Linked DNA regions of Homo sapiens. The protein of the gene in region 1 purifies or fractionates together with the protein of each later gene. This does not show direct contact. Each region holds a gene or a part of one and is shown on either strand. Other genes may lie near its edges.

Region 1 (16,390 bases):
AAGGAAATGAACCCTCTAATAGCCTCTAGTGAGGTTATGGTGGTGGAGGGAACAAGCAAAAAGCCTAGAGTTCATAATCTTTAACCTAAGTTGCACTTCTAGGAAACCAAGTGTTGTGTAAAAAGACATGTAACACATCTATATAAGTATTCACTACAAGCATCGATACCAGCAAAAAAAAGAGGAAAAACTGAAAATACTGATTACATAGCTATGGTACACAGAATACTACAGTTAACAGTTAGCAAGTAAACATGTGGAACAAACACATAGAAAAACAATCAGTGTGAAGTCAAAAAAGCAGGTGATGAAACAGCATGTGTCATTTCATTAGATATATATTTTATTGTATTTCTATCTGTCCATGTCAGCAGCCACCTACCTCCATGGTCACTGGTACTCAGAATCTTTTCTTTCCGTTACTAATTTACCCATAAGATCTTAAGCCTAGTGCCCCCTTACACAATAGGCAGTTTCTCTTTCATGTGGGGAAAAATTCAAATGTTCTGGTATCCCCTTTAACAACTGTCCTATTTTTCTCTCCTTTTACTATTAGTTTTCTAAATAAGTAATCTATACACACTGCTTCTAAAATAAGTATGTCATTTGGCCGGGCATGGTGGCTCATGCCTGTAATCCAAGCACTTTGGGAGGCCGAGGTGGGCAGATCACCTGAGGTCAGGAGTTCGAGACCAGCCTGACCAACATGGAGAAACCCCAACTCTACTAAAAATACAAATTAGTTGGGCGTGGTGGCACATGCGTGTAATCCCAGCTACTCGGGAGGCTGAGGCAGGAGAATCACTTGAACCAGGGAGGTGGAGGTTGCGGTGAACCGAGATCGCGCCATTGCACTCCAGCCTGGGCAACAAGAGCGAAACTCCGTCTCACAAATAAAATATAATAAAATAAAAAATTTACAAAGTGCTTTCAACACAGCCATTAATGCATTTGATTCTCAAAACCTCAACATTTTAATATACTCTTTTTTGAAGTGACAGATCAGGGGTTGGTTCTTCCATGGCTTCATTAACTGATGACTGAGTAAACTTCAGTGAGATGCCTTCCTTTCTACCAGTCTACTCCTACTTTACCATCCACAACCGATGCTCTTGAAGTGTTGAATGCTTTTACAAATAATATGACCTAATAAATGTCTGAATTTCAGCTTTGCTAAACCAAAAATTCCAACCCAAGAGAACAGGCTACATTAAGTGTGCTACATTTTTAGCAACACAAACTTCAAAAAGAAATCAGAAATTAACTGATGAATTCTGGTGATATTTTATTTAGAAAAAGATAATCACTGATTTTAAGATCTTAATTTTTCTTTCTTGTAAATGCTACACTAATTAGACGTAAGATAGTATTAGATAATAAAAGTATTTACACATTGAATACAAAATAAATATAAAGTAACTGAAAAACAAATCAGGTTTCCATTGACTTATTTTGTTTTCCCACTGTCCATCCTCTGTTTCATTTTTCTTTGCCTTTTGTAAATCCGTTTCTTTCTTGCTTTCAAATCAACTTTTGGCTCTGGTTTTACCCACTGTATTTCTATTGGTTTCTCCTCAGCTGGTGTTACAAAAACATCTGCAGTGGGATCATGTGGAAGAAGAGTCTTCGGCTCTTTCTTTCTCAGTTTTTGCACATCTTTCACTTGCTGTTTCTCTCTGTATTTTGCAGCTGTGATGGATCTTATGACACGCCGATGCTAAAAAAAAAAAAAAAAGATTAGATGCTTTTGAAATAAAAATAAACATTTTATATAAGGCAAAGACTTTCAGTTATGAACCATATATCCTTTCAGCCAGTGTCATGAAAAAAGGGAGTAATTTCCAAGTTTCTATGCAGCAAAAACCAAATTCAGTTTCACAGGTAATAAAACAGCAATTACTTCACAGAATCATTTTGGCCAAAGGGTTCTGGTACATTGAAGACTACTGAATGACACAACCGCTTACCATGTTTGGTGACTGGTAGTGAGGATTTTCATATAAAGTTGGTCCTCCAAAACTTCCCTGGAAAATCTTTATGAGATTTAAGACAAAACGAGGTCCTATTTCTACAAGAGCAGCATCTTCTTCTATGATCTTTAATAAAAAGGAAACATTTCATTTTGGTTTGGTTACGTTATTCCCAAAAGGTATACTGGCTATAACCTCATTATAAATGTGCCTGAAATAATTGATAATCCATAAAATCAAGGTGGGGGTGAAACTTGGTAAATGGCAAATCATCAATATTTTCTGAAATCTATTAGTACTTATAGGAAGTTGTCATGGAAAAATGTTTTTTCAGTGAGTTCTTTTAAAATTGAGTAATTAGATTTTGGTTCACATCTTGCTTGTCACAATGCATATATCCTTGAAAAACTGGTTAAACAGGATTTTAAAACAGTAACCACTATTAACAAAATGTATTAAAGCACATTATGGGGGAACTCTTGAAACTTAAATCAATCCCTAAATTGTTTTTATAAATCTAATTCAAGTTAGATTAAAAGGATATGTAGTCAAATTTATTTAATAGCTACTGATTATGGAATTAAAAGGCAACTTCCGAACAACAAATATTTATGTTATCTATTAGTTCAGGCATGTCTACCCTCAGAGGTTAGGATGATGTGTTCAACTCACATGCCAGGTATCCAATATAAAATATGCAGAAAAGAGCTCAGTTTATGTCATATACTGTCTAAAATTTTGTTCTTGCTGTTCTCTTCCACCTCTTCATCTTTCTGCACTTATCGTGCCAAACTCCTGCTTCAAGATTTCTAGAGTCACCTCCTCTTTTCTCCTGAATGAGTCACTGTGTGACTCATCATCTAACCGCTGCCATTGAATGCCTTCTAGAGCAATTACATTTTGCTAGGTCTTAACCTTTGAGGTGCTTTGAGAGAGAAACTTCTAAGCTTTGAGAGAGAAACTTCTATTTTACTGTATCCTTTACAGCACTTTCTACAAATTAGGAACCCAAGTATCTCATGGATCTTCAAGTTATTCCCTTTCTATAAAGTTAAATATATAATGGCTTATTAGGAAATCCATACTCTGTATCAACTAACAGTCATGAATAGAAGTAGGTAGAGCTCACTTAAGATATAAGACAGTACATAGTTACTTGCAGCAATCTCTTTAGGGAAAAGGAAGCTATTTAAAACAAAAGAATTATTTGCATTTTTTGTGTATGCAAACCCTGTATATCCTTATCTAAAAGTTTAACTAAAAATTGACCAGGCACAGTGGCTCACAACTGCAATCCCACCTACTCAAGATGCTGAGGAGGAATGATTTGAGGCCAGGAGGTTCAAGGCCAACCTAGGCAACACTGCGACACTCTATCTCTAAAAAAAAAAATTAGGCCGGGTGTAGTGGCTCACGCCTGGAATCCCAGCACTTTGGGAGGCCAAGGCGGGCAGATGGCCTGAGGTCAGGAGTTTGAGACCAGCCTGGCCAACATGGCGAAACCCCGTCTCTACTAAAACTACAAAAATTAGCCAGGCGTGATGATGGGTGCTTGTAATCCCAGCTACTCAGGAGACTGAGGGAGCAGAAGCTTGAACCCGGGAGGTGGAGGTTGCAGTGAGCCAAGATTGTGCCACTGCAGTCCAGCCTGGGCAACAAGAGCGAGACTCTGTCTCAAAACATAAATAAATAAACTCAATTAAAAAAAAGGTATAATTAAAAATCAAGTAAAGCTTACCTGAAAGTTCCGAAACCATATCCTATTATCCAAAATGGTGAAAGTAAACACGTGGTCCACAAATGGTTGGCTTTTGGGATGATACCGTGGTGTACTAAAGATCTAGTTAAAAAAGTGTATGTTAGTTCCTTATTCCAAGATATATCATGTATATTTTGGATAGCTAATTTTAAAGATATTTACCTGAATTAAGAGTTCTTTTAACAAAGCATAATGTGGTAATTCATCAAAAGCCTATAAAAATAAGGTAAGCATATTATTTAACAGTAGACTGCCTTGTTTAAAACTGTTTGCTCATTTGTTTCTATAACTTGGCTATAACCTCATTATAAATGTACCTGAAAGAATTGATAATCCATAAAACCAAGGTGGGGGTGAAACTAAATTGAATAACACAACTATATCTACTAAAAACAACCATGCCAGATAAGAAAATTAGACCTCATACACTGAATGAGAAACTTACAGGGTCAAAAGACAAAAGGGGCCGAGAACCTTTCAAACAGTTTCCAGTCATCTTCAGTTCAGCGAGGGTATGAACTAGAAAAATTACAACAAAAACAAAAATAGTTGTAACTTTTGCACAACTATTTCAAAAGATTACTTTTAATTTCCTCATCTAAAAAAATTTATTGAGTCAACTTACTATTTTGAACAAGGAATTTAGCAGATGGTCCGTGAGGTGAATTTGAAAGCCTGAAAGATATGGAGTAAGCTTTTTCAACTAATTAGCAAATGTAGTCAATGCTTACCACCTATTCACCATAAATAATATGCTTATAATATTTATACATTTAATTTTCTTTAAAGGTATCAAGTTTCGTGAAATCAAAAGTTTGCTTCATTCTCAACCCTTAACATGAAACACTAGGAGTCTATAACATAAAAGGTACAAAGAACAAATCCACTTAAATGAGTTTAACCAAAATCTTAATACATTCTCTTACCACATATAGAGATCCTGTTTTTTCTTAGCTTCAAAATAGATGCATTTATTACAGTTCTTCATTTCACAAACCTAAAGGAAGCAAAGTATAGGAAAATGAAGTAGATAATATAAATGAGAACTAAAGTAATTATATGTGATTAATATCATCCAGATTATCTCAAAAATACCTAACCAGGCTAATAGGCTACAAAGGCCTAAACATGTATTTATTCACAGAAGGAACCTTTAAAGTTCCTCTTAGGTATTCTACCCAAGGTAAACTAGATGCTCTGCCCATATCTTGGGTGAAATTATCTATCATATTTTTGGGCCTAGCATCTAAAATGGTCTCACTTCTGATTACTGGAAACCTCCCTCCTTTTTTTTTTTTTTTTTTTTGCGATGCAGTTTCGCTCTTGTTGCCCAGGCTGGAGTGCAATGGCACGATCTCGGCTCGCCGCAACCTCCACCTCCCAGGTTCAAATGATTCTCCTGCTTCAGCCTCCGGAGTAGCCGGGATATTACAGGCCTGTGCCATCACACCCCGCTAATTTTGTATTTTTAGTAGAGATGGGGTTTCTCCATGTTGGTCTGGCTGGTCTTGAACTCCCAACCTCAGGTGATCTGCCTGCCTCAGCCTCCCAAAGTGGTGGGATTACAGGTGTGAGCCACCTCACCTGGCCAGGAACCTCTTCTGCCCATAGTCCCATTGACAAACTACAAAGACTAAAAATAGATGCCCTACGGATAAAGCATACCACAACTAATCTTCTTATGTTAATCCTTCATAATCAATCTTCTTAGCCAATCTTATGAAAATGCAGTACTTATAGAACTAAAAACATCCTTTTTAATGATTATTTTGATTTTTAACTTTTTAGCTTTTTGATTCTAAGATCACAAAACTTAAGTTGTTCTTCATTTATACTATCATTTCTGGTGATTTGGTTCTATAAAATCACTAAGGGATTGGGTGAAAAGCCTAAGTATATCAAACCTATTTCAAATTAAACTTCAATGTCTTGAAGGCTTACAAAAGTCACACTTGAGAAGACACAAAAACATTACAGGAGTGAAGGCTTGTATTACTGTAGTATTCATAAACTCTAATTAATATAGTACTCTTAAACTCCACATTATTTAAGACTTTAAACCTAACAACTTATGGCTGGATGAGGTGGCTCATGCCTATAACCCCAGCACTTTGGGAGGCCGAGGTAGGTGAATTGTCTGAGCAACCTGGCAAAGCTCCATCTCTACTAAAAATACAAAAAATTAGCTGGGCATACTGGCGTGTGCCTGTCGTCCCAGCTACTCGGGAGGCTGAGGCAGGAGAATTGCTTAAACCCAGGAAGCAGAGGCTGCAGTGAGCTGAGATCATACCACTTCACTCCAGCCTGGGTAACAGAGAGAGACTTTTGTCTCCAAAACCAGTTAAACAAATAAACAAACCCTAACAACTTAAAAAAAAAAAACAAAACTTTTGTTTCTTACTGGTCTTAGAATAAACACAAAAATAGGAAGTTTGTGCCACTTCTGGGCTTTTGTAGTTGCCATTTTCTCTAGCTAGATGGTCTTTTACCATATTTCTCCTTCACTACGTCTCTGCTCAAATATTAAACACCATCCCTTTGAACAGGTTTTTCCGGTGTAGCCTCAGCTGTCCAAAACCTATAACCTGCTTTATTTCTCCTGTCTTTACTTGAAATTATAAACCTTGTTTATGGCCTGTCTCCATTAGAATGTAAGTTCCATAATGACAGGGACATTGCTCTGTTGAACAGTTTCTACAGCACATAGAATAATGTGGTATTACAGCAGAGGTTCAAAAATTTGTGCTCTAAAGAAGGCTAATAGTGAAAAAATGATCCTAATTCTTCTAAGTTTTGAAAATTTTGCTTTAAAATGTAAATTTATGTTCTGTGCTTCCAGAGGTTAAAAAAAATACCTAAGTGTAGTATCTTAAACAATACTTTGAAAATGTAACCTATTCAGTTTGTAATACCTTAATAGCCAGTTCCACACAAATCACTTTTAATACTGGCAAAACACTTTTTACCATGTGGGTTTTATATATATATATGTTTAATGGACTTATTTTACTTTATATATGTTGACTGATAATTTTTTGAGTACCTACTATGGATTTAGCATAATACTAGACACTACAGGGTTAAAAAATGGGACATAATCCTTCTCCTGAGGAAATTTCAATATGCTTGTTCAGACAAAACAAACAGAAATGAATGAAGCACTAAACTGTGAGAGATAAAAATTTGGAAGACCAGTTATTGAAGAGTTAATAAAATGTGTCTGAATAGTTTTTACAAAATAATTTTTAAAGTCACTGAATGACTTAGTTTTGAAATAAGCCACTGTTAACATTTTAAAAATATTTTGTTGCAATTACTTTCCAAAATTACCTCGTTAATCACAAATAGCTTATCCTTACGATCCATTTTAGTATCTAGAAAAAGAAAAAAAAGAAAAAGCAAGTAAATTAAAGGTGATTTCAAAGTTATTTCAATCAAACCACATATGCTATCCAGAAAATAAAGTGTTTTTACACTCTTCAGTTTAAAGGAGATTTTATTACTAATTTTCAAAACAAGAGCTGGAAACAATCGCTCAAAAATCTTGACTCTTTGTAAATGTAAAGAAAATAAGTAAAATATAGTCTGTAAGAATTAGAAATTATAGTGTAAGCAGTGTTTCTCAATATTTAGGTATTCTAGGAATCCTTTTCAAAAATGGGAAAATTCTCACAAACCAAAGACTGTGTTAAAGGAAACCAGTTTCAATGAAAATATCTTTCACTTTTTAATCTTAGGTGTCAAAGAAAACTGACTTTATGCCCGTGTAACAAACCTGCACATATACTCCTTGAATCTAAAATAAGTTAAAATTTTAAAAATAAAAAACAAAAAACAAAAAAACCCCAAAGCACCTCTCAACATAAGCACAACAACAGCCATATGATGGCGCTGCCACTCCACTGTTCCAAACTTTTTTTTTTTTTTTTTTTTTTTTTTGAGACAGGGTCTTGCTCCTTGCCCAGGCTGAAATGTAGTGGCGCAATCACGGCTCATGACAGCCTTGAACTCCTGGGCTCAAGCCATCCTCCTGCTTGAGACTCCTGAGTAGCTGGGACTGCAGGCAAGTGACCCCCTCACTTGGCTAATTTACTTTACTTTTTTCATTTTTTTTTTTTTTTATTTTGTAGAGACAGGGTTTCACCATGTTGCCCAGGATGGTCTGGAACTCCTGGACTCAAGTGTTCCACCCACCTCGGCCTCCCAAAGTGCTGGGATTACAGGCATGAGCTACCATGCCCGGCCATACTGTTCTTGCCTGTAAAATAACCCACTGCTTAAAAATAAATAAATAACCTGGCATTTAGAAATAGGCTCTGACTCCAACTTAAAAAGTGCTTTGAATTCTATCCCAGGTCCATTTTTCAATAAAAACAGTTAAAAAAAAAAAAAAAAAGGCCCAAAAAGCAACATGTGGCAGTCCTTAGCACTTAGGACAAACCATCCCACCTATCTCAGGACCTTCAGAAGCATTACAGTGAAGGCATTCCTGGACCTTCAAGAAATGTTTCAATAATATTAGGACACCTGTTTTAAAAAGTAAAGAATCTACCTAATGAAATCTAAAGAATTTCTTACGAAATGTTAACTGGAAAAATTGTGGCACTTGAAAGGATAAAAGGCATTGTGTTTTTTTCGTGAGAACACTGAACAAATGAAGAATATATAAAATAAGTGAAAACATAAAAATAGGTAAGTTTATAGATAGAAATTTCTAAAGTATATGATATAAAGGCACCTGCTTTAGAATGAGGCATCAACATTCTCAAGTCCTGCATTAAATGTCTTGTTCTAAAATTTATTCCTCTGGAAGAAAAGATGAGAATCCGTTCCTTATTTTTCCACTTTCCCTAAAGAAAAAGAAAATGTTAAAAGATTTTAAAATCTTATACTGAACTGATCTTGTTTTGTGACAGGGTCTCACACTGTTGCCCAGGCTGAAGTGCTCACGGCTCACTGCAGTTTCAAGTTCCTGGGCTCAAGTAAGTGATCCTCCCACCCCAGCATCTACAGTAGCTGGAGACTACAGGCATGTGCCACCATGTCCAGCTAGTTTTTTTTTTTTTTTTTTTTGTAGAGATGGGAGTCTCCCTATGTTGCCCAGGCTGGTCTCCAACACCTGGGCTCAAGTGGCTTGGCCTCCCAAAGCGCTGGGATTATAGGTAAGAACCACCGCACCTGGCCCTGTTTGTTTTTTATGAGCTTCCAAGTAGCTCATAACCAAGTCAAACCATCCTGACTCCTTTAATTTCATCTCTCACCAACATTCACTGACCACATCTGCCACCCAGAAATGCCCTCCTTGGTTTCTTTGTTTTTCAACTTCAATCTCTCCAATTCCTCCTTCCAACCCTAAAAGTTCTTTCTTAGCCCTCTTATTTCTGTGCTCTCCATGACAGATGTCTCATAATAATTTCCCACAACTCTTAATCCTTTCTTATTCACACTGCACTTACTTAGAGTCTTATATTAACTGCAAAACTCCTAAATGGCTAACCTTCCCAGACATGAGCACCTCCAATAGATATGGTTGACTAGCTTTTTCAACAGTTTACTTTTTTTGTTTGTTTGTTTGAGATGGAGTCTCACTCTGTCACCCAGGCTGGAGTGCAGTGGCGCGATCTCGGCTCACTGCAACCTCCACCTCCCGGGTTCAAGCGATTCTCCTGCCTCAGACTCCCGAGTAGCTGGGATTACAGGTGCCCGCCACTGCACCTGGCTGATTTTTTTTTTTTTGTAGTGTTAGTAGAGACGGGGTTTCACCATCTTGGCCAGGCTGGTCTTGAACTCCTGACCTAGTGATCCACCCGCCTCGGCCTCCCAAAGTGCTGGGATTACAGGCGTGAGCCACCACGCTGGACCATTTTTAAAGTAATACTTCCATCACATCCTTACTTCCCAGAGTTTTCTAAACAAAGTTCAAATGACATAGCTTTGACACTGAATTTTAAAATAGATTTTCACGTCTACATCATTATTGCCCCAAATGAAGCCTAATGCAATCCAATCTGGCTCTATTTTTTACATTTTTCAGCATTTCCCTACTTCAAAGTCTTTCATCGGTTTTTTTTTCTCCCTTGGAGTGTTCCCTCTCATTTTTTGAATGTCAAAATTCTACACTTCCTCTGATATGCAGCTTACGGGCTAAATCCTTCATGATTCTTTATCTTATTATACTAGGGTAAAAATAATCTATATCTCCTGCACTTCCATAGAATGTATCGAAGTATGGCTCAGATTATAGATACTACCTAGCTCAAGGGAAGAGTGAGAACACTAACATTTACTGGAAGTGTACAAGTCCAGCTTATTTTTCATAAAAAGTAAATATTCCCTCCCCCTGCCCCCCAATCTGCAGGTCAGAAAAGAGCACAGAATGTTGCTGTTAATAACGGGGCTAGAATTTACACTTATCTTTCATTCCACAGAGCTCACTTCTTTCTTAGAGCTTGCCATCACACCACACGGGGTCATTTACTTATCACCTACTCCGCGCTAGAGTACTATGCTAAGTGCGGAGGACGCAAAAATTAATGTCAAAGATAATCCTTGTTCACAGTATTCTGTCTAGCTTAAGAAGAGTTCTTAGTTGAATGAAAGCTAATTCTAACAACTTGTGTGCACTTCTTTTGAATAAAAACCATCAACTTATTTGAATTCTTAAGTTTCCTCCTAAACTCCAACATTTCAGGAGGAAGAGGTCACATTCTAGTCATCTTTGCAATCTCAAACCCAAAGGAAGCCTAACTTGGTACAGTGCATGGCACATTCAATGTCTGTTGAATACAAGTAAAGCTCATACTACCTAGTCTATTTTTCAGTATCTCTTGAGTTAATGACCTGGTTAACAAGTCAGAGTCACAGTCCCAAGGGCAACAACTTTTTAAAGGCTCCCCTAACGTACTTCAGGATCCCTGACTGAGAGTGGCTGACTATGGCAGTATATGGGCATACTAATCACTGGAGAAATAATAGCGAGAAATAACCAAGGAAAAGCACTACTCTCCAAAAACATTAAAAAAAAAAAACAACTGAACAACTAGTAAGAAAGAACGCTGGATCTGAGCACCCTGTAAGTCGCTTCCCCGTGGGCCGGGTAAAGGTTTTAAAACCCGCCGCCTCCAGGAAGACGGCCACGTGCACAAGGATTAGCTGCAAACTCCGTGCCCAGTCTGGCCGGGAGAATTGCTAAAACCGACCTACCGTTAACACCCGGGCTACTCTGAAATTAAGCAAGGCTGTAGTCAAGTAAGTAACCCAAGAAAAGGCGCACAGAGCCGCCGCCGCAGGTGTAGCCCGGGGACATCCCCTCCTACCTTGCAAACGGGGCCTGGGATCCGGTCCCTCTCTTCTTCCTCCACCTCCTCTGCTGTGGCGTGCCGCTTAGCTGGCGGCTCCGCATCTATTTCGTTTCTTTTTGGCTTCTTCGCCTGAACTGCAAAGCCTCCACGCCGTTTCCTCTTGGTTGCCGCCATCTTGCCTCGCCGCCCGCGCTCTTGGCCTCCTTTCCGGCGCTGCCGCTCGCTCCTATTTCCGATCTCTATGGTTCGGCGGCTCTAAGCGCTCAGCTCCGCGGTCGTCCTCCAGGTCTGTGCCGCCTCCTTCCGGTCTCGGTGGCGCGGCACGCGCGGCTCTCTAGGCCTCCTTCAGCTCTGTGGTGACGGTGGCCGAGGTGGAGGGCCGGTCTGAAGAGTGGCGGGACTGGCTTCACTTCCTCCGCGGTTCCTCGGAGCCGCCTCGCTCCTCTTCAGGGACTTTGCTGAGAAGGGCTCTCGGGCGTCCAGACCCCACCGCAAAGGTAGGGTTTCCGCACTCGGGGACCCCGAGACTAGTAAGCGATGCTGTCCCGCGGGCGGGCTGGTGAATGGGGTTGTCTGGGACTCTTGGAGGATTATCTGGACACTCCGGGCCCGCCCCGCCATCGCCTGTTTTGTTGGAGGCGGGGCTGGTGGCGCGGGCTGCACAAAACCGACTCCCCGCGGATTTGTAGCTCCTGTTTGGCCGGGAGATACCGTGTCAGTTGCGTGTCTTCATTCTTCACAACTTTTCACGTTATTGTCCTCTTACGGAGACGAGGAAACCGTAGCTTAGATAATTTTCCTCCAGAATTACAAAGATAGTTAAGTGACATAGGTGGGGTTCGGCCTGGTCAGCCGTGTTCAGCCTCCCAGCCCCTTTCCACCTCTCAGCGCAGGTGGAGCTCGCCGGACCTCGCCAGCACTGATGGGAGTTTTACTGTCTAATCCCTTCAGGTGTTTGGCGATCCGCCGAGAAGTTGTTGGCCCCAGGAGCATCCCTCGGGGCCGAATGCGCAGTGGACGATGCCCCTTCTGACCCAACAGATCCAAGACGAGGATGATCAGTACAGCCTTGTGGCCAGCCTTGACAACGTTAGGAATCTCTCCACTATCTTGAAAGCTATTCATTTCCGAGAACATGCCACGTGTTTCGCAACTAAAAATGGTATCAAAGTAACAGTGGAAAATGCAAAGTGTGTGCAAGCAAATGCTTTTATTCAGGTATGGAAGTAGGCGCCTTTAAGCCTGTGCCATAGATACTCTAAATGTAATTTAATGAAATCGGAAGGTTTCAGTAGACAAAATAACTTAATAGTCATAATAACTTGTCAATAGTCATAATAAATAACTTAATAAATAAATAATAGTCTTAAGTTAGAGAACAAAACGTCATTACTTGAATTTTTTTTCTCTCCCGGTAACAAATTCTTTTCCCATCTTGTTTTACAGAGATAATGGTTAGTAATGACTAAAGTTTATTAAACTAGGCTATTGGCTAGGCTACAGTCTTCTTATTGTTTAACTTATTTAATCTTAACAATAGTCCTGTAAGGTAGGTTCTGTTATTATTCCCGTTTTATATATGTGGAAACGAGGCACAATTTTAAGTGATTTGCCAACAGTCCCACAGCTGGTAAGTGGCTGAATTGGGATAAGAACGCTGAATATTTGTTTCCAGAATATATGCTCTTTTTTCCACTGCGATATGCTATTACTAAAGAGTATTTTTTTCCTTTACTGGTTGTAATAGAATTTTTGTTCTTCCAAAGTAATATTTGTGTGGTTCAGATAGGATTGCAAGTTCAACTAAGCGTTTTTTAACACGTAAGTGCACAGCATGATCTCAGGGATAGAGAGGTAAATAAGACACGGTTCTTGTCCTCATGCAGGGGCATGGTATGGTGGCTCACACCTGTATTTCCAGCTGCTCAGGAGACCGAGGCTGAAGCACGAAGATCGCTTGAGCTCAGGCATTAAAGACCAGCCTGGGTAATCATAGTGAGACCCCCGTATCAATAAAAAATCATAATAAAAGTTGAAACTAATGTTGCTCATGCATTATCAAGTCATTCGTCTATTTTCCAAGTGACCTTAGCAGTAGTGATAGGCACAAAAACGAGACAAGGGAGAGTCACAGAGGGATAGTTTTAGATCCAGGAATGGAGATAAGGATGCTTCAAAGGATGTCTCTAAGATGTTTTGATTGCTAATCAGAAATTATTCTCATGGGATTAGCACAGTATTGTATTTTTTAAACGTATAAAGTGAAATCTAGGACCTTATATTATTAGTTTTTATTCTTTTATGTAACAATTTTCATTTTTACTCTTTTCATAGGCTGGAATATTTCAGGAGTTTAAAGTTCAGGAAGAGTCTGTTACTTTTCGAATTAATTTAACTGTCCTTTTAGACTGTTTATCTATTTTTGGATCAAGTCCTATGCCAGGTAAACTATGATCAGTATAAAGACATAAAAGTGTTATACATAGTGGTCAGAAAAATACAGGAAGTTATTTGGAACATAAACATTGGTTCAGAAAGCTAATGCCAATTCATTTTTCAGTGGCCACAGTCATGGGTTCTAACATTTCACAATGTTAATTGCAAGTGTGTTTATAATTCTTTTCATATTTGTAAAAGTATTTGCATTTTTTTTTTAATTTACAAGGCTTTGAGGGATTGTAAATTCGAACTGGCCAAAAGAATACTTTGGACATGTCTTAAATATTTTTAGCATTGTGAAATGTTTTAATTGCTTCTTTTTCCTAACTTGTCCAGAATTACTCCGCTAGTTAGTGGCAGAGAAAAACAAAAGCCAGTTCTGACTCCTAGTTTACTATGTTCAAAATTTGTTTCTTTTAAGCCATATTTTATAAGTTATGTCTATTTTGCCAAATGATTTTGTGGTGTTTTTGAGACAGAGTTTCTCTCTTGTTGCCCAAGCTGCAGTACAATGGCACAGTCTCAGCTCACTGCAACCTCTGCCTCCCGGGTTCAAGTGATTCTTCTGCCTCAGCCTCCCGAGTAGCTGGGATTACAGGCACGTGCCACCACGCCCGGCTAATTTTTTGTATTTTTAGTAGAGATGGGGTTTCACCATATTAGCCAGGCTGGTCTCAAACTCCTGACCTCAGGTGATCTGCCCGCCTCAGTCTCTCTAAGTTCTGGGATTACAGGCATAAGCCACCGCAACCGGTTGCCGAATGATTTTCTTTAAAATATATATTTTTTTATTTGTTAAGGGAATTTTTAAGAATGGTGAAATTGAATTGCTGTGGGTATAAAACTAAGGAATCCCCAGAAGAATGATTTTATTTCATAGGAAAGCAACCTGGAGATTAGCTAGGAAAAATTCAATATAGTTCTCCAGAAAAATGTATTTTACGTTTCCACAGACAATTCCACTATTATTAATTATACATTTTCTAATACAGTGTTCTCCAGCTAGTTTTTCACAGAAGCATCTGTCATCTTCCATTCCTCACTGTGGCTCTCAATCCAGTAAGGAGAAGGAGTTTGAATATCCTGTCATATTCCTCCTTCCCTCTAGTGGTTTGCAGAGTTAAAATTTACACCACCATTAACAACCCTCTTTTTCTCTCAATTTGATTTTTAAATTCGAGGAAATATAAAGAATATCTCCCAGTTGGAAAAGTTGGAAGGATCCTTGTCATAGTGAGTACACTGACGTTACAGTACAGATGACAGCAATCCACTGTTACACACATTGAACCTTCAAGGAATAGCATACCCTGTTCTGCAGCAATTTAGTTACTTGCTGTGTTGATCCATATAGATTCTCTACCCTGAAATTGTACATATATAAAATCAACAAGCTATTTCTGAGGTGTGTATGACAACCTGAAAATGATTCCAAAGAATTATGTTACATTTTGTTCTGGTTCCCAATTTTCTTGTAGTTTTGGAATTCTCTACACACAACTGTCATCAGGGAAGATGTCATCCCTTTTTATGAGGAGATACATATATGTGAGAAATTGGGCGGAATAAATTATTCTTGAGAAATTTTATGTATCATTTCGAGGAGAAGCTGAACCCAGAACTATAAAGCTAAGGCCAAGTATGACTTCTTTCCATTGCAGGGACTTTAACTGCACTTCGAATGTGTTACCAAGGTTATGGTTACCCTTTGATGCTGTTCCTGGAAGAAGGAGGAGTGGTGACAGTCTGCAAAATCAATACACAGGAACCTGAGGAGACCCTGGACTTTGATTTCTGCAGCACCAATGTTATTAATAAAATTATTCTGCAGTCAGAGGGGCTCCGTGAAGCATTTTCTGAATTGGATATGACGAGTGAAGTCCTACAAATTACCATGTCTCCTGACAAGCCTTATTTCAGGTACTTGAGAGCAGTGCAGTTATAGTTAATGTGGTCTGTACTCCATCTTCCCACTTAGACATTTGCTTAGGATGCAAAATTTTTATTATCCACATTTTTAGAGTTTTCACAACTTTAGACAGCTTGTACTCTTACCTCATAATTTTATGGATCAAGAAACTTAAGACCCAGGAAGATTAACTCACTATTTCATATTTAGGTGGTGGTGGCATCTAGATGAGAAGCCCAGTCCTCTAATTTATAAACTGGTGGTGTTTTCATTGTACTACTCCTTACTTTCATAGATCAGGTTACATCATGAGGAAAATTGGGTTTAAGTGTTTGGAAAGGGTGTTTGTATTATGGTATCTTTTTCAAGTTAGTTCAGGATGCAGAAGAAGATGTTTTCTACACGTGGCTCATTCATTCACTAAGTATCTGTTGATCACCTACCGTGTGCTTATTCATCTTATTAAGCATTGTGGGAAGAACAGCTTAAAACCAAGGTGAAGCCAAGAAAATGTGAAACAGCAAACCATTAAGTACCAAGATAGCACACACAGATACCTGGGAAATGCTGTATAAGGATTTAGGGAGGATTGCTCAAGGCTGGCTTCCCAAGGGAGGGCAGTTTTCAGCAGGAGTACAATGTCAAAAAAGCTGTTCTTGATAGTTTAACACAAGTCTCTTTTCAGGATTAGACTCAGAGATTCTAGCAATTTAGAGAGAGGATCTAAATATTCTCTTTTTGAAATATTTCAGAATATTAAAGCCCCTAAATACATATGGAATAAAAGGAATAAGGTATTCTTTTTGTAACTACTTTAGAAGAATTACAGGCCCGGCTGTAAAAGTGCTGTGGCAGACACCTGTAATCCCAGCACTTTGGGAGGCCGAAGTGGGCAGATCACTTGAGGTCAGGAGTTCAAGACCAGCCTGGCCAATGTGGTGAAACCCTGTCTCTACTAAAAATAGAAAAATTAGTTGGGCGTGGTGGCACGTGCCTATAATCCCAGCTACTT
Region 2 (12,500 bases), on another chromosome or scaffold:
GGGATCCACCCCAGTGAGCCAAACACCTCACACTAGGCCCCACCTCCACACTGGCAATTAAACTTCAACATGAGTTTGGGCGGGAACAAACCACATCCAAACTGTAGCATCCTCCTAGACTAGCCCTTGGAGGTGGGCTGCCTCCACAAAAGGAATGCAATTTTTGATAAAGTGGTTTTGTTGGCTGAAGACAGTTGCTGGACAGGGACTCATTCAAGAGTTGGCCAGCAACCCTCCCAGCAGCTGGGGGAGTGAGTATCTCAGTCCTGAAAGGTAGCATACCAGAGCATCCACTACACCTGCATTTTCTGATTTTTTTTTCTATTTATTTGTTATTTTTCTAGAGATGGGGTCTCAGCTGTGTTGCCCAGACTGGTCTCAAACTCCTGGGCTCAAGTGATCTTCTCACCTTGGCCTATCAAAGTGCTAGGGTTATAGGCATGAACTACTGCACTCAGCCTGCATTTTCTGATTTCAAAATGACACTATCATCCACTATCTGATCTTTTCCACTCCTGACAGCTCTCTTTTTTCATTTGCTACCCAAGTCTTTTCCTTTCCTAGTGACCTTATAAAATATCATCCAGGCCAGGCACAGTGGCTCACGCCTGTAATCCCAGCACTTTAGGAGGCTGAGGCGGGAGAATCACTTGAGGTCAGGAGTTTGAGACCAGCCTGAACAACGTGGTAAAACCCTGTCTCCACTAAAAATACAAAAGTTAGCCACGTTTGGCAGCATGTGTCTGTAATCAAGTGGCTGAGGCACGAGAATCACTTGAATCCAAAAGGTGGAGGTTGCAGTGACCTGAGTTAGTGCCACCGCACTCCAGCCTAAGCAACAGGGTGAGACTGTGTCTCAAAAAATTTAAAAAAAAACATAATCCAGGGCCAGAGGCAGTGGCTAACACCTGTATTCCCAGCACTTTGGGAGGCTGAGGTGGGAGGATCCCTTGAGCCAAGGAGTTCAAGACTAAACATAGGGAGATCTCGTGCTCTCTCTCTCTCTCTTTCTCTCTCTCTCTCTCTCTCTATATATATATATACACACACACACACACACACACACACACACACACACATCATGCAGGTACAGTTTTGTATCATCTGTTTCAAAGGGCAACGCACTAAATAAAGCTGTACTCAACTTTTGAAAGCCCTCTTTTAAGATTAAAAAACTTCACAGGGTCCAGGCACGGTGGCTCACACCTGTAATCCCAGCACTTTGGGAGGCCAAGGTGGGTGGATGCCGAGGTGGGCAATCACGAGGTCAGGAGTTCGAGACCAGCCTGGCAAACATGGTGAAACCCCATCTCTAAAAAAAAAAATACAAAAATTAGCTGGGTGCAGTGGTGCACACCTGTAGTCCCAGCTACTTGGGAGGCTGAGGCAGGAGAATCACTTGAACCTGGGAAGCGGAGGTTGCAGTGAGCCAAGATTGAGCCATTGCACTCCAGCCTGGGTGACAGAGTGAGACTCCGTCTCAAAAAAGAAAAAACAGAAATAAAACAAAACAAAAAAACTTTACAAATCTCCACATAATAGTATCATAGTAGTAACTGAATGAATGCCCATTACAATAAATAATAAAAGCTATTATAAACTTGTTAAACTGGTTTAATCATGTGAACACCCACATATGTATGACACAAAAAAAGATAAGTATTTATATAAGGACATTTCTTGTTCTGGTGAGAGAGACAATGCTTGGTGTGCACACAAGTTCTTCAACTACCTGGATTAGGATGCTGCCTATAATTGTGTACAATAACGGAGTAGTCAGCTGAGGGGCAAGTGGAGATAGAAATCCAGCCCAATCTCTTATCACCAAGTTTTTCATCCCACCAAGGGCTGAATGTACCTGCAGAAAGGTGGCATTTTTTTAAAATCAATTGCCAAAACAAGATACCACTCAGGTCTCTCTTTTCTATTTAACATTAAGGCACCTCTATGCCAGCCCTGAACCTGCCCAGTGACTGATCACAAGCTTTGAGTCTGGAGTCAGTCCAAGATGTGGATTATGGCTTTGCCACTTACTTGCTATTAACCTTTGTTGTAGTCTGAATGTTTGTCCCCACACCCCCAAATTATAGTTATTGAAATTATAACTCCCAAGGTGATGGTATCAGGAGGTGGGGCCTTTGGGAGGTGACTGGTTCAATAGAGTGGAACCCTCATGAATGGGAGAAATGCCTTCATAAAGGAGATGGCTGGAGAAAACTAGTTAGCCCTTTCCACCAAGTGAGGTTACAGCAGTAAGACAGCTGTCAATGAGGGAGTGAACCCTCACCAGCCACTGAATCTTATGGTGCCTTGATCTTGGACTTCCCAGCCACTAAAACTGTGAGAAATAAATTTATGATGTTTATAAGCCACCCAATCTATGGCTTATAAACATAGCAGCCAAAATGGACAAAGACCACTTATCCATCAGCTTGTCTGTTTTTTTGTTTGTTTGTTTTTGAGACGGAGTCTCGCTCTGTCACCAGGCTGGAATGCAATGGCGTGATCTCAGCTCACTGCAACCTCCACCTACCGTGTTCAAGCGATTCTCCTGCCTCAGCCTCCCAAGTAGGTGGGATTACAGGCACCTGCCATCATACCTGGCTAATTTTTGTATTTTTGTAGAGATGGAGTTTAACCATGTTGGCCAGGCTGGTCTTGAACTCCCGACCTCAGGTGATCCGCCCACCTCGGCCTCCCAAAGTGCTGTGATTACAGGCATGAGCCACCGTGCCCAGCCCAACTTGTCTGTTAAATGAGATCATAACATCCCCCTCTCTGTGGTTGTGCTGTTCCTTCAGGTAGCAAATGGATACCATCTATTTTCATAGATCTTGTTTTATCAACTGTATTGTGGTATAATTTACATACAATAAAATATACAAGCATTAAGTATACAGTTTGATAAGTTATGGTAATGTAAACCGGTGACCAGATAGATAACCTGTGTGTTTTTTATACTGTCCAGAGATTGTATCAGACTCTGTGGAAATTACAAAGTAGCATAAAGCATCCTTACTTTGGTTAAACCCTTGATTGGGTTAGGCCTGGGATGTAAGTTCTCACAGCCCCCTACTTCCTCTGCATAACCACACATCACATTGTCTGTCACTCTCCTAGTCTGTAAAGCTACTTGAGGGCATCTCGAGCGTTTTCCCTGCTGTATCTGCAGGCATCTAACACAGTGCGTGGACATTCTGTAAGCATTTGTTGCAAGATAAATGAAAAAAACGTACAAAGTTAACAATGGATATCATGCTGAGTTTGTGCCAAACAAAACAGTCATTTGAAGAAGACCCGGAACAACCTTATGGGTTAGTAATTAGTAAAGACCAGTAGAGAAGGTGGCCTTTGAGAAGGGTCAGGTTTCAATAGGATTAAGGAGCATTTCAGAGCTAAACCAAGTACTTGGAAGAGATAAAAGCAGTGGGCTCAGGCACCAGCCTAGCCCACTGTGCATGAAGCTTGGTGGGGCTAAACATGATTATCAGTCCTTTAACTTTTATTGAACGCCTTCACTTCCAGATTTCTAAGTGGGGCTCAGGAATTATAATAGATGTCCACAGCTGCATGGTCTTCTCTCTCCACAACACGCAGACACTATTAGAAGTAAAAGCCACGTGTCCTCAAGAGGGCAAGGCAAAGCATCTTCAGATGTCTCTGCCCTTAAAGCACACGCGTTCTGCTCTGCGACGAAGCAGGACAAGGAGGACAGGGACCTGCACCTCCGGAGGCCCGCACCTACGAAGATAGCGGGCTCGGGACCTTCGGTGGACCGGCAGGGTTCCAGAGGCCCGCGCGCCGCCGCCCCGCCCTCATTGCTGAGCCTGCCAGGTAAGCAGCCCCAGCGCCGTGCCCGCGCGACCTCTACTCCTTCCGGGAGGGTCGCGCTCACGTCTGAAGTGGGAGCAATGCACCGGGACAGGGACACCTCCTAGGCCATGCCTGTTCCAGTCCAGTTCTGCCTGAAAGTCCGGCTGGCTCATCACCTGCCTAAATAAAACCGTATACGGGCAAACTCCCTCCGCAAGCAGCGCGCCCCAGCACCGGAAGTGACGCGTTACGTGCCCGCGTATTCCTACCGGCGTATTCCCGCCCTGCTTTTCGCCCGCCGTTCCGTGGCGGGAACTGAGGCGACTGTGGGGACATCAGTGATCGTAAGTCTCCTGGGCCCGTTATTCTCAGATTAGGTGACGGAGCTAAGACTTCGAGACCATCTCGTCCTTTTTGTATCGCGGAAACCTGAGGAACGAGCCGGCGGCGGTGACCTGCACGAGAAGCCAGGCTAACTGGTAACCTGCTGGAGGAACTGCAAGCCCGCTTCGCCTTCCCCACTCCTGCCCTTGATGCCCCTTGTGAGGTCTTCCACCTCCTTCGGGGCCCCAGCCTAGTGGCCCTTTCATGCCCTGGCCGCGCCCTTTGGTGAAATGGTGGTTCCGGACAGCATCTTGCAGGCCCCGGCTTTGGGCTGTATTAATGTTTAACAGCCCGAGGCAGGGATGGACTAATCCAGTAACGTTATAAAAACCTTGGCTGCTAACAGATATTAAAAATTTATTTTATTGAGCATATCCCCATATGCCAAGCAAGGAACTATGTATTTGCATACATTCTTTTATTTAACTCAGTTGTCCTGTGGAATAGGCCTTAGCTCCTTTAACAGAAAAGGAAACCGGGTATCATAGATGGTAATTCATTCACCAAATATTACGGAGCATCTACCATGTACCAGGCACTGTTCTAGGCACCAGGGCATGTAGCAGTGAAAAAAATAGAATTAACCGGGGACTTTTCAGGCGAGCTAATGATGCTTTTTATCCCTGAAAACAGCCTGGAAGAATGTTTACCTGCATGTTAGAAATAGTTACCTTCTGGGTGGGATTTTGTATTACTTTTTTAAATCTCTCATGCTTTTATGCATTGTTTTGATTTCTTCAAGTGAGTGTGTTATGAGAAAAACAGCTGTTTCTATTTTAACAACAGAGTCCCCCACCTTCCCTTCCCCACAGAAAGTCTCTGAAGGTAGGTAAGCATTGACTCTGCCATGAAAATAGGTCCCTGGCCAGGCGAGATGGCTCACACCTGTAATCCCAGCACTTTGGGAGGCCGGGGCAGGAGGATTACTTGAGCCCAGGAGTTCCAGACCAGCCTAGGCAACATGGTGAAACCCTGTCTCTACCAAAAATTTAAAAAATTAGCCGGGGGTGGTGGCACGCACCTGTAGTCCTAGCTACTGGGGAGGCTGAAGTGGGAAGATGACAGGAGCCTGGGATGTCAAGGCTGCAGTGAACCATGATTCCGCCACTGCACTCCATCCTAGGCAAAAGAGTGAGACCCTGTCTCAAAAACAACAACAACAAAAAAAGGTCTTTGAGTTCTGACCCAAGGAAAGGAGTGAAGGTTCTCATTTGTGGTGCAAGCAGAGCACCTTTAATTGCCGAAGAGTCCATTTCAGGGTCTGAGCTAGAGCTAGGCCCATGACTGTGAAAGAAACCATGGAGGCCCATGTGGTTTGGTCATTAGCAACATCATATTTATCAATGCATTTGGAACTCATTAAACATTTTTGTGACATATGATCTTTGTTCTATAACTCCTGCACTAGAAATAGATTCTAAGTTCGTTAGGGACTTTGACCACTTTTCTGTTCTTGTAGCCCTCAGTACAGTGCATTCAGAGTGTCCTAGGTCATGGGGTGATGTCCTTTATTATGTAACATCTTTGCACAAGGCTAAGTTTATTTTCGGGCTGTACTTTCTCATAATGGTTCCCCACCACCACCCCCGCTTTCCTATGGTGCTGATTCGCAATAAAAGTTTCAATAAAAGCTTTTTTTTTCTGTCTTGCACCTGACCAGGGTGAAGTACCATGCAAGCATTTCTTAAAGGTACATCCATCAGTACTAAACCCCCGCTGACCAAGGATCGAGGAGTAGCTGCCAGTGCGGGAAGTAGCGGAGAGAACAAGAAAGCCAAACCCGTTCCCTGGGTGGAAAAATAGTAAGAACACTTGTGTCTTTGTTAAAATAATTCATAAATTATCTCTCTAACCAGTACTGATCACTTTTTTTTTTTTTTAACTTATGGAGGAATGCTTTGTTCTGTTTAGAAGTTGTCTTTGAAAAAAAATCACCCACTTATATAAGTCATAGAACCCTGGAACTAAAGTTACCTGAGAATAATCTAGTTTAACTCCCTTATTTTGTAGATAAACTGAGATCTCTACAAGCAGAGGCTTCCATTTTAGGGGCTGGGATACAGAAGTGAAGAAAACAAAAGTTTCTGTAAACTGGCTATAAATACTAGGTCAGGAGTTCTACTTAAATCCAAATATGTAATCTGTTCCTCCTTCTTCTCATTACAATAGGTGGAAAGTATTATTATTATTATTACTATTTTTGAGACGGAGTCTCACTCTGTTGCCCAGGCTGGCGTGCAGTGGCATGGTCTCGACTCACTGCAACCTCCACCTCCTGGGTTCAGGTGATTATCCTGCCTCAGCCTCCCAAATAGTAGGGATTACAGGTGCCCACCACCACACCTGGCTAATTTTTTGTATTTTTAGTAGAGACGGGGTTTCACCATGTTGGTCAGGTCGATCGCAAACTCCTGACCTCAAGTGATCCACCTGCCTTGGCTTCCCAAAGTGCTGGGATTACATGCATGAGCCACCGCGCCCAGCCCTGGAAATTCAGTTTTGGTTAGCTCATACATTTTTGTCCAAACAACACTTGAATTAGCATTTAAATTGTCAGTCACCACCTGGCATGGTGGCTCATGCCTATAATCCTGTATGTAATCCCAGCAATTTGGGAGGCCAAGGTGGGAGGATCACTTGAGGCCAGGAGTTCCAGACCAGCCTGGCCAACATGTCGAAACCCCCTCTTTACTGGGAAAAAAAAAAAAAAAAAATTAGCCAGGCATGTTGGCGGGCACCTGTAATCCCAGCTACTTGGGAGGCTGAGGCACGAGAATCACTTGAACCTGGGAGGCAGAAATTGCAGTGAGCTGAGATCACACCACTGCATTCCAGCCTGGGTGACAGAACGAGACTCTGTCTCAAATAAATAAATAAAATTGTCAGTCATCTAAGTGATATTACCACAAGTAATTGTAACTATTGGTTGAATGTAGCCTCGGTAATTACCAATGTTTACAGATTACTTATAGGCCGAGTAAGGCCCTCATATGTTTTTTGTGTTTTTGTTTTTTGCTTGCCTTTTTGTTTGTTTGTTTTTTTGGGACAGATTCTCACTTTGTCACCCAGGCTGGAGTGCAGTGGCGCAATGTCAGCTCACTGCAACCTCTGCCTCCCAGGTTCAAGTGATTCTCCTGCCTCAGCCTCCCGAGTAGCTGGGATTACAGACATGCCCCACCACACTCAGCTAATTTTTGTATTTTTAATAGAGACAAGGTTTCATCGTGTTGACCAGGCTGGTCTTCAACTCCTGATCTCAGGTGATCTGCCTGCCTTGGCCTCCCAAAGTGCTGGGATTACAGGCGTGAGTCACTGCGCCCAGCCCCTTATATGTTTTGTTTGGCACCAATAAACCTCATGAAAATCTAGATTTTTTTAATTATGTGGAGGAGGGTCTGGATTTTCAGCTTCTCAGGAGATCAGGCAACACTGGGGGCAGGTTCTCACATGACAGGAGTTATATGGACTTGTGTACTGCTTCTCCTTTTGGAAAGGTCGTGTGTTCCTCAATTTGCCATGGTCCCTACTATATCTTGCATCACACTCTGCCTTCCTCACTCTTGTTATCTGCTTAATCTCTGCAGGTATTTGAATATGAGTCCCTGCTTTATAACATATACTGGATTCCCAAGAGAAGACATTAAAAAAAAAAATCATAATTCCTACCTAGTGTTAACCTGATTTATCGAAAAGTATGGATCAAAGAACTTTTGATTAGTTAACTAAGCACAAAGCCTAAGCTTAGAGTTGGAAGTGTAACTTTGTTCTAGCTTCTCTTAAAAATCACTGTTGTAAGATGAAAATTATATATGATACTTCATATTGGTTCAGCTTGTTGTTTTTGTTAGCCCTCAATGAATTGAATAGGTCTTCATTTTTTTATGCAGTTAGATGATGGAAAAAATTGGCATTAACCAGTTAACACATACTAAGTATATATGTAACTACATTAACCAAAATAGTTACCTATACTAAGGTTACTAAATGGTTTTCCCTTTTCATCTTAAGATTCATGATCTTATTTTGTCAAAGTGGAACAATGCTTTTTTTTTTTCTTTTGAGACAGAGTCTTGCTCTGTCGCCCAGGCTGAAGTGCAGTGGTGCGATCTTGGCTCACTGCAACTTCTGCCTCCTGGGTTCAAATGGGACTACAGGCATGTGCCACCACGCCCACCTAATTTTTTTTGTATTTTTAATACAGACGGGGTTTCACCATGTTGACCAGGCTGGTCTCAAACTCCTGATCTCAGGTGATCTGCCTCCCAAAGTGCTGGGATTACAGGCGTGAGCCACCGCATCCGGCCAATAATAATGCTTTCTAAGCAGGTGTTCACTTTAATTTTTTTTTTTTTTTTTTTTTTGAGATAAAGTTTCGCTCTTGTGACCCAGGTTGGAGTGCAATGATACGATCTCGGCTCACCACAACCTCTGCCTCCAGGGTTCAAGCGCTTCTCCTTCCTCAGCCTCCCGAGTAGCTGGCATTACAGGCATGCACCACCATGCCCGGCTAATTTTATATTTTTAGTAGAGACAGTGTTTCTCCGTGTTGGTCAGGCTGGTCTTGAACTCCTGACCTCAGGTGATCCACCTGCTTCAGCCTCCCTAAGTGTTGGGATTAGTGTGAGCCATCGCACCCAGCCCCACTTTAATTTCTTTTTTTTTTTTTTTTTTTTTGAGACAGAGTCTCCCTCTGTCACCCAGGCTGGAGTGCAGTGGTGCGATCTCAGCTCACTGCAAGCTCTGCCTCCCAGGTTCGTGCCGTTCTCCTGCCTCAGCCTCCCAAGTAGCTGGGACTACAGGCGCTCACCACCACGCCTGGCTAATTTTTTGTGTTTTTAGTAGAGACGGGGTTTCACTGTGTTAGCCAGGATGGTCTTAATCCCCCACTTTAATTTCTAATTAGTGTTTGTAGCATATAAAATAAAATCCTTTTTCTTTAATTTTTGTGGGTATAACAGATTCGAGCAATGCAGAAAGGAAGTAAAACATTATTTCACTCTTTCAGAATGTGTTTGGTTACGGTAAAAACAAGTGGGGTTTCCACCTATTTCCGATTATGAAAAAGTTTCTCATTTCATTGCTGATGTTTAAGAATGGTCATTGGTATTTTAGTAGAAGGAACACTTGAGAGTTTTCTGTGGCTACTATAATATACTAAATAACCTCTTTCCTCCTTCTCACCCCGCAAGTCGCCCAAAATGTGTGGATGAAGTTGCTTTCCAGGAAGAAGTGGTTGCAGTGCTGAAAAAATCTTTAGAAGGAGCAGATGTGAGTTGCAAATGGTGTTTAATGTCATTGGGATATTTAAGACTTAATTTATTCACCCTCTTTCTTCCTTTATAACTTCTAGCCCTCGTTAAATATCTTGCTCTGTGTACAGTAGGTCCTTGATAACTATTTGTACAATGATAATTAGTTCAAATATTTATTGAGCATCTCCTATTTAATCTTACATAGCAGTGTTACCTAGTATTCAAGTAAAAGTCATAGTAATTAAGACAAACTATGAAACATAGACATAGAACAAGACATAAAACATAGAACAAGACAAACTATGCCCCTTTTTTCATGGGTTTTTATTGGTAAGGAAAGATAGAATAAACAAGTAAACCAATAAATAATTATAGGTAGTAATATGTGCTATAAAGAAGAGCCAGAGATTCCTCTAAAGTATAATTGCTTACTAACTTTAGGATTTGGATTGACCTATAATACAAAAAAAAAATCGAGCTTTGAATTCTGCTTATAGCTCTCTCTTCTGCTGTGATCTGGGGGATAAAGTATCCATGGATAACTTGCATTGTAAATTATTCTGAGATAAGATAAACCCATGTGAAAAATTAGCAACTTAAAGTTGTGTTATGATGAATGCCCAAAGTGCTTTAACAGCTCAGTAAAGTGCTGAAGTGGGATGTGGTTTTTGCTTTAGTTTCAAGATTTGCTTCCTTCCTCTCAATCTGGCTGCTTTTAATTAGAAGTTCTTTTGGGTTTTGCTGCCATCATTCCCTTGCTGAAATTATATTACTACAGTACACATTTTGAAAGAAGTTAAATTTATAAAACTATTTAGAATCTTTTTCTTTACCAGTATGTGTTTTGATTTGACTCGCATACTCTTATACCTTTTTGGCCGGCCACAGTGGCTCACGCCTGTAATCCTAGCGTTTCGGGAGGCTGAGATGGGAAGATCACTTGAGGTCAGGAGTTCAAGACCAGCCTGGCCAACATGGTGAAACCCCATCTCTACCAAAAATTAGAAAAAGTAGCCAGGCGTGGTGGCACACACCTGTAGTCCCAGCTACTCAGGAGGCTAAAGCGGGAGAATCATTTGAACCTGGGAGGCGGAGGGGTTGCAGTGAGCCAAGATTGTGCCACTGTACTCCAGCCTGGGTGACAGAGTGAGACTCTGGTCTCAAAAATAAATAAATAAATAAGTAATAAAAAATAAATAACACAAATACTCTTATACCTTTTAATTTTATAATAGTATAGCATTTTATTTTTTGGTATATTCTGCTTGCATATCTTGGTAACAGTATATACCATTTTAATTGCAGTTGCATAGTAATTACACAGATTGCAGGACAATATCTAATTTAATTACTAGTATCTTCAGCAAATGTAGTGAGATTAAGATCCAGTTCTTTTGTTTTTTTGTTTTTTTTTGTAATTGAGACAGAGTCTTGCTCTGTCACGCAGGCTGGAGTGCAGTGGCGTGATACCAGCTCACTGCAACCTCCGCCTCCCAGGCTCAAGTGATCCTCCCACCTCAGCCTCCCAAGTAGCTGGGACTACAGGCATGCACCACCACACACAGCTCATTTTTGTATTTTTAGTAGAGATGGTGTTTAGCCATGTCAAGTGACCTGCCCGCTTTGGCCACCTAAAATGCTGGGATTACAGGCATGAGCCATCATGCCCAGCCTAAGATCTAGTTCTTGACTTTATGCCACGTAATTTATGAGGCTGAAGTAAGAACTTCAGTTTAATATTTTGTGCACCTTTTCAGACTAAGTTTTGTAAAGAGGTGAAATAGTTTTTTTAATTCAAAAGAGTAAAGGAAAACAATTCATTCAATTTATTTTGAAAGGTTTTAAAGAATTATAAGAAGATAATTTTTTCAGAAATTGATTTTAAGAACTGGTATTCCACATACAGTTCTTGAATGTACTACATATATTAGACTAGTGTATAATTAAGGTTTAATAATTTTACCCTGTTTCAAAGAATTTAAATTATTGTATCTGATAGTTAACCTGGATGAATCGTTACATTGTTAAGGGATGCACAGATCAAAATAATAGTTGTAGACCTTAATTACTAAGAAGCCTGGGAGGTTTTTAAGTTATGAATCTCATAGTTTGTTCTGTAAGCTATATGTTATGAATGTAACAGTAATAGTCTTCTAATTAACATATTTGTCTATGTATTGGTTTATTCATTCATTTGGCCAACATTGACTACTGTAGTAGATGCTAGAATACAGATGTGAATAGAACAAATAAGGTTCTTGGTCTTTTAATGAAGTAGACAGGCATTTTACAATTAAGCCCCACAGTGAAATAACAATAAACCAATGCAAAATGCAACAAACACTAATGAGAGAATAGGAGAGGAGACCTACTTTAGACTGAATGGTTTCTGATTTGTAATGCATTAGGAGTTGGCCAGGCAGAAAGAAGAGGATCAGACTCCAGGTCATGGGAGCAACATATGTTCGGGCCAGAAAGTGCCAAGCTGTTAGAAGCCATTGTAAGCTAGAGCCTGGAAGGTGAAGGAGGTGGTAGGCAGATCATGGAAGTCCTTTAGGCCATGGTAAAAAGCTGAGGGTTTTTTGGTTTGTTTTTGTTTTTCTAAGTGGAATAGTTTTAAGTAGCAAGCAGAGTGGTATCTGATTTAGGTGAAGAATGAATGGACAGGAAGAGGGAGGGTTAGGCAAGAGTGGAAACAAACTCTAATGCCTAGTTTCCTGTGTACACTGATTTCCTTATGTGACAGGACATACTGAAGATTGCACAGTATCATAACAGAGCTCATTAGAATTTAGTTGACTTATTAATTTTCACCACGGATCAGTCGACTGCTTGATAGGAGCCAAACTAGCTAGATACAAGGTATAAAAGAAGGTAGCTAGTGATTTAATTTTATCCTTTCCTCTTCTAATGAATTCTCCCTGATACATGCAAGCATCCTTACAGAGTGCATAATCATGATGTGGAGCAGTGCCTAGTACTTAATATATATCTAGTTTTGGATTTTTTGTTAATATTTCTGTTCTTGGTACTTCTGCTCATCCAAAGCCC

The links.
Region 2: the proteins of RAD1 (region 1) and RFC4 purify together in Homo sapiens (affinity purification with mass spectrometry; 3 studies listed by BioGRID and IntAct, with this or other methods). This does not show direct contact.

What each region holds. Positions count from the first base shown.
Region 1 is NC_000005.10:34,910,553-34,926,942, reverse strand, and holds the start of RAD1 (cell cycle checkpoint protein RAD1), read left to right. Parts: upstream 1-11,438; 5' UTR 11,439-11,527; intron 11,528-11,981; 5' UTR 11,982-12,050; coding exon 12,051-12,248; intron 12,249-13,364; coding exon 13,365-13,473; intron 13,474-15,130; coding exon 15,131-15,389; intron 15,390-16,390. Other genes in the region: BRIX1 (ribosome biogenesis protein BRX1 homolog), read right to left, coding at 1,448-1,717, 1,968-2,096, 3,709-3,810, 3,892-3,942, 4,175-4,248, 4,355-4,404, 4,656-4,726, 7,060-7,103 and 2 more. UniProt on the Homo sapiens protein: Component of the 9-1-1 cell-cycle checkpoint response complex that plays a major role in DNA repair. The 9-1-1 complex is recruited to DNA lesion upon damage by the RAD17-replication factor C (RFC) clamp loader complex.
Region 2 is NC_000003.12:186,798,082-186,810,581, reverse strand, and holds the start of RFC4 (replication factor C subunit 4), read left to right. Parts: upstream 1-4,099; 5' UTR 4,100-4,292; intron 4,293-5,857; 5' UTR 5,858-5,868; coding exon 5,869-5,999; intron 6,000-9,386; coding exon 9,387-9,465; intron 9,466-12,500. UniProt on the Homo sapiens protein: Subunit of the replication factor C (RFC) complex which acts during elongation of primed DNA templates by DNA polymerases delta and epsilon, and is necessary for ATP-dependent loading of proliferating cell nuclear antigen (PCNA) onto primed DNA.